Homo sapiens: one gene and its partner. The protein of the gene in region 2 interacts with the protein of the main gene of each other region in a biochemical or structural test. Each region holds a gene or a part of one and is shown on either strand. Other genes may lie near its edges.

Region 1 (7,681 bases), on a different chromosome or scaffold from region 2:
ACTACAGGTGCAAGCCACCACGTCTGGCTAATTTTTCTATTTTTAGTAGAGACAGGGTTTCACCATGTTGCCCAGTTGGGTCTGGAATTCCTGAGCTCAAGGGCTCTACCTATGTTGGCCTCCCAAAGTATTGAAATTACAGGCGTGAGCTACCGCGCCAGGCCTCAGTTTCATTCTTTTGCATGTAGATATCCAGTTCTCCCAGTACCATTTGCTGAGGAAACTTCTTTCTCCATTGAAAGATCTTGACTATAGATGCATAATTTTATTTCTAGACTCTCAAGCCTATTCCACTTATCTATATGTCTTTATATCAATACCATAGGTTTTTTTTTTAATTACTATACCTTTGTAGTACATTTTGAAATCAGGAAGCATGAACTTTTTAAATTTTTGGGTCCTTTGCAATTTCATATGCATTTTAGCATACACTTTTCCATTTCTTCAAAAATGTTGTTGAATCTGTAGCTCTATCTGGGGAATATAGCCATCTTCACAATATTATGTGTTTGATTCCATGAACATTAAATGTATTTTCTTTTCTTTTTTTTTTATCTGAGAAGTTTCACTCATCACCCAAGCTGGAGTGCAGTTGCACGATCTCGGCTTACTGCAACCTCCACCTCCCGGGTTCAAGCAATTCTCCCGCTTCAACCACCCGAGTAGCTGGGATTACAGGCACCCACCACCACGCCCGGCTAAATTTTGTATTTTTAGTAGAGACGGGTTTCGCCAAGTTGGCCAGGCTGGTCTCAAACTCCTGACCTCAGGTAATCCACCCGCCTCAGCCTCCCAAAGTGCTGGGATTACAAGCGTGAGCCACCGCGCCTGGCCATGTCTTTTCATTTATTTAGATTTTCTTTTTTTTTCAGTAGTGGTTTGTGGTTTTCAATGTATAAATCCTGCACCTTCTTGGTTAAATTTATGCCTAGGTATTTTATTCTTTTTGATATTATTGTAAATGGAACTTTTAAAGTTTCCTTTTCAATTGTTCATTTCTAATACATTGAAATGCAACTGATTTTTATGTGTTGATCTAGTATCTTGCATCTTTGCTTATTTCATTTATTAGCACTAATAGATTTTTTATTTAGGATTTTCCATATATAATATTATGTAATTGGTTCCTTTTGTTGGAAAGGGATATTAAGAAATCAACATCCAGGTGCTAAGTGTACTCGTAGCTACTTTGATATAATTGCTTCTAGGACCTCTTAGCAGACAGAGCTAGATAATACATACATATACACATACATATATCTATATTTATTTATTAAAATCCATGAATTCTTACTGATTCCATCCACTTTAATTCTATTAGGAAAACTGGAGGCAGAACTCTCCATGTTGCAAGTAGCAGTGTCAGAAAAGCCCCAGTGTGGGAAGCAAGAGGTATACTGTGATCGATTCTGTGGCTGCAGTAAGAAGTGGCGTAGAGATGACTTTGAACTGACACACGAGATGTGTTCAGTGTACTTAGTTTCTGTAATAACACTCTCCTTGTTTTCTTCCTACCTCTCTGGATACTCTTTTTTTGGATTCCTTTTTGAACTTCCATTGCTCATGCCTTAAATGCTGGGTGTTCATCTGGGTTCTGTAACAAGCCTATTGCCCTCTCAGCTCACTTTCTAGATTAGCTCATTGATTCTAATGCCTTCCAGTACCTTTTGGGTAATAGCTACAGCACATGTTTTCTGTGCTTCAGATAGGCCTGTTTGACTACATACTAAACAGCTTCACTTGGATATTCTGTTGGTGCTAGTGTGTCAAAATGGAAATGTCCTAAACTCATCACTATGGCCTATTTCACCCTTCCTCCTGGTTGCAACTAGGTTTTCTTCCTGTTGCTTAATGGTTTCTTGTTGCCCAAACCAGAAACTGGGCATCCCCATGGACTACTGCCTCTCTTTCACACCCCTACATCCCAGTCCTCTTGATTCACTCTCCTAAATATGTCAAATATGTCCATTCATCTCCATCCTTATGGCCACTGCCGTAATCAGATCGCTATTATCCCTCACTTGGATTACAGCGTGCTAATTGACCTCTCAGACCCATTCTTAGAACCATTAAAAACTTGAGTTCTGAGTTTTAGGCCTGGCTGTGCCACTTATTAGCTGCATGATCTTGGTCAGACTGCTTAATCGCTTTAGGACTCAGTTTCCTCATCTGTAATACAGAGGTAAGAATAGTACCTACTTCATAAAGTAGTTGTAAGACACGTATGAGGTGATGTAGTCAAAACTATTAGCATATTGGCTGACTCATAGTAAATGATCAAGAAATGTTAGTTATGATCATGATCATCATTGCAGGGTTATTCACCGCACAGCCTCTGTTATTTCTCCATTTTCTTTTCTGATTGCTTTCAGTCTTTCAGCTTTTCTGAACCTCTTCCTGTTGCTCCAGTGTTGAATGCTATCTTTTGCTTCCAGGCCTTCCCTCTGCTCCATTTTCCTGGAATTCTCTTCTCCCTTGCCCCTTGCCCTCATTCATTCTAAGTTTATCCTTAACTTTCTCTTGATTTGGTGTCATTTATCTGTGCTCCAATAACACTCTTTAACTTCCTTTATTGAGGCTCTTATCTCACTACTGGAGTTGCCTACTTATTCGATGGTCTCTCAAGTAAGTCCTGACGTCAGGGACCAGTTTACCTTGTTTACTAATAGGGTGCCTGACTTGATGAATGAGTGAATGAATGGGTGATGAATGGGCCATAGCACCATCCTAGGTTTTCTGATCTCCTGTCTGGTATACTCCTGGTGAGAGCCTTGCCTGGCCACAGGAGTGGGGAAAGCTGAAGGCAGGCTTTCCCTGTGCCATATCAGCCATTAGCAATTACTACATTATTGGTTTCCCAGATTTTAGCTGATCAGTGATTCCCAGGACTATTCCTCTGGACATGAACATGAGGCTACCTTTTCCCTTTTTTTTTTTTTTTTTTTTTTTTTTTTTTTTTGAAACAGAGTCTCGCTCGGTCGCCCAGGCTGGAGTGCAGTGGCGCCATCTCGGCTCATTGCAACCTCCACCTCTCGGGTTCAAGCGATTCTCCTGCCCTCAGCCTCCTAAGTAGCTGAGACTACAGGCGCGTGCCACGACGCCCTGCTAATTTTTTGTATTTTTAGTAGAGACGGGGTTTCACCGTGTTAGCCAGGATGGTCTCGATCTCCTGACTTCGTGATCTGCCGGCCTCGGGCTCCCAAAGTGCTGGGATTACAGGCGTGAGCCACCTAACCCGGCCTTTTTCTCTCTTAACCTCACCAACAGTCTGATGGCCCTTCTCTCACACGGGAAGAGCTCTTGAAGTTATCAACCTGTTAGGACATTTGTTATCTCTAAACCCGAGTTTACTGTGTTATGTTTGCCTGGAAATGTTATATCAAATGTATGAAATTGCCAACTGTTTGTAATTTCATATGGTTCATCCTATATGTGATTTTGTAAATTGGACCCACCTGAGAAGCTAACTGCTGTAATGCCAACTGTGAGTAGCTACAGACTGGAAAGGTGATGGAGTTGACCGGGTGGGCCTGCGACAGCTGGAATTTGCGGTGGAGGTAGACACAAGTCAGCGAGACGGCTTAGAAGGCAGAAGGGAAGCTGAACTAAGGCTTCTCAACATTTTACTCTGCTTAGAAGTGGAAACATTTGGTTCAAAGGGCCTTTGCCTTAGACTCCATAGGGACAGGCCCAAGGGCTGCTGTTCACACCTCCTGGCCACTGAGAGGGATGAACTTGGCTGCCTCTGAGTGGGAACCACGAGGTCTGACCCCCTACGCAGTCCCAGGTTCACTACCCCGCAGGCCGGAGCGACACCGTTGGCGCTGGGAGAAGAGAGCCGCTGGGTGGCAGCAAAGGCGCGCAGGTTTCTTCCGACAGAGGCGGTTCCTTAACATACTGTAGTTTTCTTCTTTTTAAACTCATTGCTCTAACACTCTTAGAAATTTACAGTGGTTTTATATTCTTGAATTACACAGTGTGAGCAGAGACTCCGTTTGCCATTTCCTCCCGGAATTACATTGATTTTTTTCCTGCGAAATTTTTTACTTATTTTTCTCCCATGTTATTTCCAGGAATCCTGGGCATTCCCTTGCCCCGGAAACGCCGTGTCCAGGCCGACCTAAGCCAGGAGCCGCAGGGGCGGGAAGCCGGGGGCAGGGCCGGGCCTGGGACGCCGCCTCAGGAGCCGCGCGGACTCGGGAACCTCGGGCGGGGCCGGCGTGAGTACGCCCGGCACCTCCGGCTGCTACGGTGGCGACCGCGAACTGATGCCGTGGAAAACACCCTTAGAACATGGCTTTTTGGGGAGGTGAATAGGGGAGAGTCCCCAAACGACACCTCGCCGCGCACCGGTCCTTGGTGCAGTTTGTAAATGTCCCTCCTGTGTCCCAAAACGAAAACACTCCTATATTTTGTAGCGCCTTCCAGAATGGGGCAGCGGAAACTAGTGTTGGGACAAAGGAGGCGAGCGGGGCCTTTTCGGGGCTCACAGAGGACCCCTCGGAGGCGCGGCCGCCGGGGAGAGCGCGACAGCACCCCGCCCCCCGCCAGCCGGGCGGGGGCCGCTCCCGAGGTGACAGGAGAAGGCGGGAGGTGGAGGAGAGAAGGTCCCGCCCCACCTCGCTCTCCTTTACGGGAAGTGATGTGGGGCCAGGCGGAAAATACCCGCCAACGACCCAAAAAAGGCCGGCGGCGGGTGGACGCGGCGCGCGAGGACCCGAGCCAGGCGGGGACAGGACGGCGGGGCGAGCCAGGTGAGGGGGCCTGAGGAGCGGGAGGCGCGCGGCGGGTCCGGTCCCTCCGGGAGGGCCGAGCGAGGCGTCCCCCTGGGGCCGTCCTAGGGCTGGGGTCCGAGTGCGCCGCCCTTCCTCCCCGCCTCCAGGCGCCCGAGCCCGCCTGAAGAGTGGCTTCTCTCCCAGGCCCTCAGCGCAGACCCCAGTGATGACAACTGCCTGGTGCTGGCCAGGTGCGGTCCCAGGTCCGGCCAGGGTCTCAGATCGCCTCCGGGTTGCATCCAGGTGGGAGGATGCCCATCAGGGGTAGGAAACTTTCCAGGAGGGAAAGGAGGAAAGTCCCCGACCTCCCGCACGCCCCCCGGTTCATTCCTCCCTCTTTTGCTTTCAGTTTAACTGTTTAACCTGGTTGCCCTCCGGTTGGTGAGGGTCTGGACTGCAGACTAGCTGCGAGGGAGGGGCTCTCTCTTCTCCTGTCAGTTAGACTGAAAACTACCTGGCAGCCAGGCCCTCCGGTCGGGACTGGTGGTGGTGCAGATATGATGACAGGCTTTGGTAACTATTGCCAAAGCCTGTCTCTGTCCCAATAGATCACCAGTTCAGCAAAGTCAGGCCTGAAGCGAAGGGAGTCTTGTGAGCCCTGGACTGAGGAGCCTTCCCAGCCTTTCCGCTCCTGCTGGCCACCTGGGCCCACATGGCCTCAGGGTCTTCTGCCACAGGGTCCTTACCCCTACAGCTTAACAGCTGTTCTTTCCTTCTGGATGGATTCTCACATTTTATGGTTGGTTGATCAGTCAGATGTTGGAATTGGGGGTAGAGGGATTATAGAGTTGTGTGTGCTATTTAAGTTTTCTGTAATCATTGCTAATTAAATTTGTTGATTCTCCACTCACTGTTCTTGTTCTTTTTTTTTTTTCGGCCTTAAAAACTTGCTTTAGAGGGAAAATACAATCTGGAAAACAGTTTCTGCAGATGGTTAGAAGTGAAGAAAGGTTAATATAATGCTGAAGGAACTTGACTGAGGATCATTATTTTCTGTATTTTATGTTGGTTTATGTTGTTTTATGTTTTCATTCCTACTTTTTTCTTCCTTCCTTTCTACCATTCTCTCTTCCTCCCTCCCTCCCTTTTTTCTTCCTTCCTTAATTTCTGTGACGTGCCTTGATTTTTAATTTCGTTGAAGTATATTTAATCTATTTTTCCTTTTTTTTCTTTTGAGACAGAGTCTCACTCTGTCGCCCAGGTAGGAATGCGGTGGCATGATCTTGGCTCACAGCAACCTCCGCTTCCTGGGTTGAAGTGATTCTTTTGCTTCAGACTCCAGAGTAGCTGGAATTACAGGTGTGTGCTACCATGCTTGGCTAATTTTTGTATTTTTAGTAGAGGCGGGGTTTTGCTATGTTGGCCAGGCTGGTCTTGAACTCCTGACCTCAAGTGATCAACCTGCGTCAGCCTCCCAAAGTGCTGGGATTATAGGCTTGAGCCACTGCACCGAGCCTATTTTTCCTTTTGTTGTTTGTGCTTTTGATGTCAAAGTTAAGAAAACATTGTCAAATTCAAGATCATGAAGATTTATACTTATGTTTTCTTCTAAAAGTTTTATAGTTTTTAGCTCTTACATTTCATTCTTTGACCCATTTTAAGTTAATTTTTAAATATGGTGTGAGGCAGGGGGTCTGACTTCAACTTTTTGCATGTGGATATCCAGTTCTTTCAGCACCATTTGTTTAAAAGACTGTTCCTCTTTGAATAGTTTTGGCACCTCTGTTGAGATAAATTGACCATGAATGTAAAGGTTTATTTCTGGACTGTCAGTTCTATTCCATTGATCTGTATGTCTGTCCTCAGGCTAGTATCATACTACCTTGATTATTGTAGCTACATAGTGTTTTGAAATCAGGATATGTGAGTCCTCCAACCTTGTTCTTTTTCAAGATTGTTTTGACTATCCAGTCCCTTGAATTTCCATATGAATTTTTTTTTTTTTTCGAGATGGAGTTTTGCTCTTATTTACCAGGCTGGAGTGCAATGGCACGATCTCAGCTCACTGCAACCTCCGCCTCCCTGGTTCAAGTGATTCTCCTGCCTCATCCTCCTGAGTAGCTGGGATTACGGGCATGTGCCACCATGCCTGGCTAATTTTATATTTTTAGTAGAGACAGGGTTTCTCCATGTTGGTCAGGCTGGTCTCGGACTCCCGATCTCAGGTGATCTGTCTGCCTCAGCCTCCCAAAGTGCTGTGATCATAGGCATGAGCCACCATGCCTGGCCTTCCACATGAAATTTAAAGTCAGCTTCTCAATTTCTATTGTTTTGGTTCTAAAATAGATGTAAGGGTTTTAAAGTGAGCAACAATCTCTAGGAGCCAGATTTTTGAGTTTTCTCTCCCAAAGCTGCTTTTCCCCTAGTCTTCTCCATCTTAGTGAATGGCAACTTCACTCTTCCAGATGCTCACACCAAACACCCTGAAATCACTCTTGATTCTTTCTCTTATACCCCACATTAAATTCCTCAGCAGGCCGGGTGCGGTGGCTCACGCCTGTAATCGCAGCACTTTGGGAGGCCGAGACAGGTGGATCACGTGAGGTCAGGAGTTCAAGACCAGGCTGGCCAACATGGTGAAGCCCTGTATCTACTAAAAATACAAAAATTAGCGGGGCGTGGTGGTGGGTGCCTGTAATCACAGCTACTCAGGAGGCTGAGGCAGGAGAATCGCTTGAACCCAGGAGGCGGAGGTTGCAGTGAGCTAAGATCGTGCCATTGCACTCCAGCCTGGGCGACAGAGTGTGAGTCCGTCTCAAAAAAAAAAAAAAAAAAAAAAAAAGAATACATCTAGGATGATAACCATTTCTCACCACTTCTGCTGCTTCCACCAAGTTCTATCATCTCTGTCACCTGGATTACTGCAAAAGCCTTCTGAAGGGCTTCCCTGCTTCCACCCTTACTGC
Region 2 (7,000 bases):
CGCTGCATGCCCAGCTGCAGAGCGCGCTGGCCGGGCTGGGCCATGAGATCCGCACTGGCGTCCGCACCCTGGCCGAGCAGGTACCTTGTCCGACCGCACAGTCACCCCATCCCATCCCGTCTTCAGCCTACCTGGCTCCAGCAGCACCTGGGCCAAGGTCCAACCCTGACCCCTTCGTGCGTCTAAACTCAGGCCCTAAGGAACTCTTCCATCCCCGACTCATGCCCTGACCTCCCTCCTTCTTCCGTTTTGTGTCTCCAGTTGGAGGTGGGCATCGCCAAGCACATCCAGAAACTGGTGGGCGTCAGGGAGTCTGTCCTGCCTGAGGATGTAAGTGGCCCTTCTGCCTGCTGGCCTTCACCACCCTGCCAGCTCTGTAGATCTGGGGTCATTGAAGGCCTTGGTGTCAAAGATAAGTCCCCCAGACCAGGCAAAGCATGTTCTCTCCCTGGGCCTCAGTTTCCTCCTGGGATGCTCACAGGAACGGGTTGGGTCACTCCACTGGCTGTCCCAGCACTGACAGTCAATGAGGGGGCTGCAGTTGGGGACGGCTTAGACTTTGCAGCCAAACAGGCCAGGGTGCACATCCTTCTCAGCTGCCTCCTAGCTTTGCCGTCCTGTTCACACAAGCCAGCTGACCTGTAAGTGGGGGCATATCATGATGCACACCTTCGACTGGCGGGTAGAAGGATATTCATTCATTCACCAACTATTTATTAGGTCCCCACTTTGTCCTATGCATTGATTTAAGCACTGGGGATAGGTCAGTGAACAATATGACAAAATACCTGCTTTCCTGGAGCCCACGTTCTAGTAGTGGAGGTGAAAAAAGAGCTACATAGTGAGTATCCATAACTATAGTGATAGTTATAGCTGTTAACTCTATGCACAGGCGTGTATGCGCGTGCACACACATGCAGTGTGCTAGATAATGATAAGTCTACAGAGAAAATTTAAAACAGAGAAGCGGCTGAGAAGTGTCAGAGGGTTGTATTTTTAGATGGTGGCCAGGGAAGGCCGTGACAACTGAGCGAAGACCTACGGGAAGCAAGGGGAGGAGGCATGAGAAGTTCTAGGGGAGGAGCATTCCAGGCAGAGGGAACGGCAAGGGCAGAGACCCTGAGGCAGGACCATGCCTGGAAGGTTCCAGGGCTGTAGAGGAGGCCAGTGTGGCTGGGACAGGCTGAGCAACGGAGAGGGGAAGGCAGAGAGGTGGGCAGGCCGGCCTCTTACAGACACTACAAACTGCTCTCACAGAACGGTTCCCAGCCCTGTTTCCTCCCTCCAGGTCAGGGGAAGGGGATGGGGGTGGGGCCAACATGGGCCGGAGCCACACCTGCTCCCCATCTCCCTCCCCAGGCCATTCTGCCCCTGATGAAGTTCCTGGAGGTGGAGCTTTGCTACATGAACACCAACTTGGTGCAGGAGAACTTCAGCAGGTCTGTAGCAGCCCCTGCCCTGGGCGCGCTCGCCACCTCCCCCTCTCCTCCCACGGCCCCTCCTTCCTGGGCCCCAGCATCCGTTCTGAGGGGTGTAGCAGCCCCTGCCCTGGGCGCGCTCGCCACCTCCCCCTCTCCTCCCACGGCCCCTCTTTCCTGGGCCTCAGCATCCGTTCTGAGGGGTGGAGGTGAATCCCTTTGGTGACCTCCCTTATGGGTGCAACAGGCTCTGCTAAGGCTCGCTGCAGGGACGGGGAGCTTGCCACTTCTCAGGCCTCCCCATTTCCTGCTGCCTAGCTCTGAGTGCTTTGAGTTCTTCCTTAGGCTGAGCCAAAATCTACCTGTCCTTTCTCCTTTAGTCCCAGGCCTGTCTTCAGGGCCTCCCTGCCTGCTCCTCTGCCCCCATTAGGTTACAGGTGGTCCCTGCCCACGGTGCAGGGAGAACTTCTAGCTAGGGTGTCTTATAGCAGGGACCCAGCATGCCAGGCAACAGGCGGTGGAGTCCAGCACATGGGCTCTGGACCACCTGGGTTCAGACTCCGGCTTCATCACTGCTTAGCAGCCTTGGGCAAGTTCCCGGTGCAGATGAGAGTAGTTCTGGCTTCTGTTGAGGATTAAATGGGTCATGTGAGGTGCTGAGCGTGGTGTCAGTACAAAGGAAGTGGTCAGTGACTATTAGCGGTAGTGACGATGATGATGACAGCGCCCCACCTCCCTGTGGAATCTGGGCCCTGAAGAGGCCGCAGCCCTCCTAGAGTTCTGTTCCACCCCCAGAGGTATAAGCCAGGGCCCCTCGGAGCCCGGCCGTTTTTATTTCTTAAACCATGTATATATATTTTTTATTTTTTTGAGACGGAGTCTCGCTCTGTCGCCCAGGCTGGAGTGCAGTGGCGCGATCTCAGCTCACTGCAACCTCCGCCTCCGGGTTCAAGTGATTCCCTGCCTCAGCCTGCTGAGTAACTGGGACTACAGGTGCATGCCATTATGCCTGGCTAATTGTTTTTTTGAGATGGAGTCTTGCTCTGTTGCCAGGCCAGAGTGCAGTGGTGCAATCTTGGCTCACTGCAACCTCCGCCTCCTGGGTTCAAGCGATTCTCCTGCCTCAGCCTCCCAAGTAGCTGGGACTACAGGCACGTGCCACAATGCCTGGCTAATTTTTGTATTTTTAGTAGAGACGGGGTTTCACCATGTTGGCCAGGATGGTCTCAATCTCTTGACCTCCTGATCCACCCACCTCGACCTCCCAAAGTGCTGGGATTACAGGCGTGAGCCACCACGCCCGGCCTGGTTCTGTCTTAAATCATGGTTGTCACTGGGGGCCTGGCCTCCTCCCTGTCTCCAGCCTTGTTTGTGCATTCCGTTAGTGTGCTGGGGAGGGTTCCTCACTGAGGTTGAGAGGTGTGTTGGATAGGACTGATCCCACCTGCCCCTTGCTGGTCCTGTACCCACCCTCTCCCCAGCCTCACCTGGGGTGGGAGGCGGAGGGGGAGGTTGGGGGTGGGAGGAGCTGGGGTGGGGCTGGGTCACTGAGGCCGCCCCTTTCTCAAGAGCGTCTTTGCTTCCTCCTCCGCCACCGCCCTGCCGTGCTGTGTCCGCATCCCTCCGGCCCCGCCCCAGCCTCCTGACCCTGCTCTGGACCCACACACTCACAGTGCTGGTGGAGGCGGCCGCCTCCCAGCGCAGCTCATCCCTGGCTTCCAACAGGCTGAAGATTGCCCTGCAGGTAACAGAACCGGTCACAGCAATGATAACCCTGGTGGGAGGGTGCCTGGGGTCACCTCTGATATCTCCCCCAGAACCTGGAGATCTGCTTCCACGCTGAGGGCTGTGGCCTGCCACCCAAGGCCCTGCACACTGCCACCTTCCAGGTAGGGGCTTTGGGTGAGCTTCCCCGTAGGAAGTCTGGGGAGCCTGCCTTTTGGCACTCACCTATGTCCAGGGTCGGCTACATAATTTATGGGGCCCAGTACAAAATGAAAAACTGGGCCCCTTATTCAAAAGTTATTACAAATTTTAGAACGGTGACGACAGAACCTGAAACCAAGCCTGGGTCCTCCTAAGCACAGGGGCCCTGTGTGCCCGCATGGGGGGTGGGGTCGGGGAAGCACGCCTGTGAAGCCAGCCCTGTCTGTGCCTCTCCTGCTGTCTGTCTGGCCTGAGGGTGGCCCCAGCCCGTTGTCCCATGACCCAATACTTTCCATTTCAAACGGACATGTTACCCTTGACAGTGAGCTCCTGGAGGGCAGGCCTGGGCTGTGGTTGGGCGTGCAGTCCAGGTGGATCCTCAGCTGTATGTGTTCCCAGGCTCTGCAGAGGGACCTGGAGCTGCAGGCGGCCTCCAGCCGGGAACTCATCCGGAAGTACTTCTGCAGCCGAATCCAGCAGCAGGTGAGGCCCCTCCCTCGCACTGCGCCCTCTGCAGGCCCTGGAGCACCCCGCTCCCGCTGTGACCCTGCTGACCCTGCCCCTGCTCCCCACCCCAGGCAGAAACCACCTCTGAGGAGCTGGGGGCTGTGACAGTCAAGGCCTCCTACCGCGCCTCTGAGCAGAAGCTGCGTGTGGAGCTGCTCAGCGCCTCCAGCCTGCTGCCCCTGGACTCCAATGGTGAGTGGAGGCTGCCTTTGGCCACTCTCCATGGTCCCGTCCTGGCCCTCCTGTCTCAGCGACCCTGGGGGCTTCGCTCACCCTGCAGGAGCTCTGGGTGCATTTCCTCCAGTTACCAGGAGGGGTCAGTGCCGCTGAGCAGAGCATAGCTGCTGGGGTGGGGTGCCTGGGAGACCCTCAGCTGACGCACACTCCCCGGCCACTTACCAGGCTCCAGCGACCCCTTTGTCCAGCTGACCTTGGAGCCCAGGCATGAGTTCCCTGAGCTGGCCGCCCGGGAGACCCAGAAGCACAAGAAGGACCTTCACCCATTGTTTGATGAGACCTTTGAATTGTGAGTGGGTCCCGTTCTTCTCCCAGTCCCTCCCCTCATCTCTCCCCACTGGGCTCCCTCAGGCCTGCTCCTCCTGGCTGGGGCCAAGGGGCTCCCCTGAGATGGCCACATTTGGGCCCAAGGGATGGGGCATCTGGGACAAGAGTTTGCAGCTGGATGTGGTGGCTCACACCTGTCATCACAGCACTTTGGGAGGCCGAGGCAGGCGGATCACTTGAGGTCAGGAGTTCAAGACCAGCCTGGCCAACAGTCTCTACTAAAAATACAAAATTAGCCGGGCATGATGGTGGGTACCTGTACTCTCAGCTACTCGGGAGGCTGAGGCAGGAGAATTGCTTAACCCAGGAGGCAGAGGCTGCTGAGATGGTGCCACTGCACTCCAGCCTGGGCGACAGAGTGAGACTCCATCTCAAAAAAAAAAAAAAAAAAAAAGAGGGCCAGGCGTGGTGGCTCATGCCTGTAATCTCAGCACTTTGGGAGGCCAAGGCGGGCGGATCACGAGGTCAGGAGATCAAGACCATCCTGGCTAACATGGTGAAACCCCGTCTCTACTAAAAACAAAAAATTAGCTGGGTGTGGTGGGACACGCCTGCAGTCCCAGCTACTCGGGAGGCTGAGGCAGGAGAACCACTTGAACCCGGGAGGCGGAGGTTGTAGTGAGCCAAGATGGCGCCACTGCACTCCAGCCTAGGTGACAGAGCAAGACTCCGTCTCAGAAAAAAAAGTTTGCTTCCCTTGGGGGAAGGGGTGGACTCCCAGGTGTTTAACTTAGGGACTTCCAGGGAAGGGTCCTGTCTCTGAGGTTCTCAGTAACCTGCTCCTAGTTCCTCAGCACAGGTGAACAGGGAACACAGGACCGCTGGTTTAAAGCATCAGCCCACGGTCAGAGCAGGCATTGCACCACATGGCTGAGAGGTGCCAGGCTGAGAGCTGGCTTTGCAGTCCAAACCCTGGCTGGTTCCCAACACCAAGTGGGTGAACCCATGTGCCGAGGCTGGGGTGGCTGTGCTGGGGCTGGCAGCAGAGCCCTGACTCTCCCCGCAGCCTGGTGCCTGCTGAGCCGTGCCGCAAGGCTGGGGCATGCCTCCTGCTCACCGTGCTGGACTACGACACGCTGGGGGCCGACGACCTGGAAGGCGAGGCCTTCCTGCCGCTGCGTGAGGTGCCCGGGCTGAGTGGCTCTGAGGAGCCTGGTGAGGTGCCTCAGACCCGCCTGCCCCTCACGTACCCCGCACCCAACGGTAGGCCTGAGCCCAGGGCAGGGTGGTGCGGGGACGGGAGCCTGTAAAGCTCAGGCAGGGGCCCCAGAGAGGTGATGCCAGGGTCGGAGAACAGCTTCCCTGGAGACGGGAGCCAGTGGGACAGCCACGGCCCATCTCTCGGTCTAATCAAGAGACCAGTGAACTTTAAGCTAAGTGTAACGTGACTCTCCTTGCATGGGGAAGTCACCAAGAAGTTTAACTGGGGAGAAGGGCCTGGATCTCACTCGGCGGGGCCGCTTCCCTGCAGAGCATTTTTGATACCAGCAACGGTCTGATGCTTGTGCACTTATTATGAGCAAGTGCTAAGCACTTTATGCATTCCAGCCAACGAAGCAGATATTAGCACTCTTTTACAGATGAGTAAACCGAGGCATGAAAAGGTTAACTTGCTAGCTTTAGGTTCTCGTATAAAAAGGTAATAGTCAAACCTCAGGCACATCTCAGCCCCTCGCTGCAGTCAGGACAGTGTCCCAGCAGCACTCTGTCTGTTACGCGACCCGACCGGATGCGTCTGTCAGACCACCTCCTGGGCTGGGCTGGCGCGGGTCTGTCACTTGTTTCCTTCCAGGTTGTTGGGGAGATGGAGCAGTGTTGTGTACCCCCCCACACACTCTTCTCTGCCACCACCAGGCACTGCCCTCTCCCCTGGCATCTGACCCCCAAACCCCTCTCTCCGCAGGGGACCCAATCCTGCAGCTGCTGGAGGGCCGGAAGGGTGACCGAGAAGCCCAGGTCTTTGTGAGGCTGCGGCGGCACCGGGCCAAGCAGGCCTCCCAGCATGCCTTGCGGCCGGCACCGTAGCCGTAGAGGTTTGCGGTGGGGCTGGGTCCCCGGTGGGGACTTGCAAGGGCTTTCCTGTAGGGTCTGGGGCTTCCCCGCCACATCGCGGCCCTCCAGCCTGGCCTAACACTTGGGGAGCCCCAGCATGCGGAGTGCCCAGAGTGCAGACCTCCCCTGCCTCCCATGGTGATGGGGGCTCAGCAGCGACATCTCTACTCCCGCCTCCCTGCCTCCAGCCCTGGCTGCAATGTCTCTACCACATCCCAGCACCAGGGGGAGCAAACCCTGCCCCTGCCCGCCTCTCAGAAAAGCTGCTGTGGTGGGCAGGGGATTGGGCCATCTGTCTCCTGGCCCTGGCCCATCTGCCTCCTGGCCTTCCTGTTCCAGCCACTGGGGTGGGGGCCAGGTTCACTGGGACCAGGGCTACAGGCACAGAGTCTCCTGGAAAAGGGAGAGGGGACCCTGCCAAAGATGAGGCTCCAGCTGCCCTGGGGGGAGGGTGGTGGCCATTACTAGAGGGGGCCTGGGTCCTCTCCCCAGGGGCTGCCAGCATCCAGGCCAGGAAGCCTGGAGCCAAGAAC

Evidence for each region. Proteins that work in one complex are often made in the same cells at the same time.
Region 1: the proteins of UNC13D (region 2) and RAB27A form a complex in vitro, tested with the Homo sapiens proteins (one study listed by BioGRID).

The regions. Positions count from the first base shown.
Region 1 is NC_000015.10:55,286,789-55,294,469, reverse strand, and holds the start of RAB27A (ras-related protein Rab-27A), read left to right. Parts: upstream 1-4,656; 5' UTR 4,657-4,754; exon of another isoform or gene 4,755-5,018; intron 5,019-7,561; exon of another isoform or gene 7,562-7,681. UniProt on the Homo sapiens protein: Small GTPase which cycles between active GTP-bound and inactive GDP-bound states. In its active state, binds to a variety of effector proteins to regulate homeostasis of late endocytic pathway, including endosomal positioning, maturation and secretion.
Region 2 is NC_000017.11:75,827,405-75,834,404, reverse strand, and holds part of UNC13D (protein unc-13 homolog D), read left to right. Parts: coding exon 1-80; intron 81-261; coding exon 262-330; intron 331-1,359; coding exon 1,360-1,439; intron 1,440-3,056; coding exon 3,057-3,162; intron 3,163-3,235; coding exon 3,236-3,307; intron 3,308-3,743; coding exon 3,744-3,827; intron 3,828-3,922; coding exon 3,923-4,043; intron 4,044-4,253; coding exon 4,254-4,377; intron 4,378-5,421; coding exon 5,422-5,618; intron 5,619-6,318; coding exon 6,319-6,440; 3' UTR 6,441-7,000. UniProt on the Homo sapiens protein: Plays a role in cytotoxic granule exocytosis in lymphocytes. Required for both granule maturation and granule docking and priming at the immunologic synapse.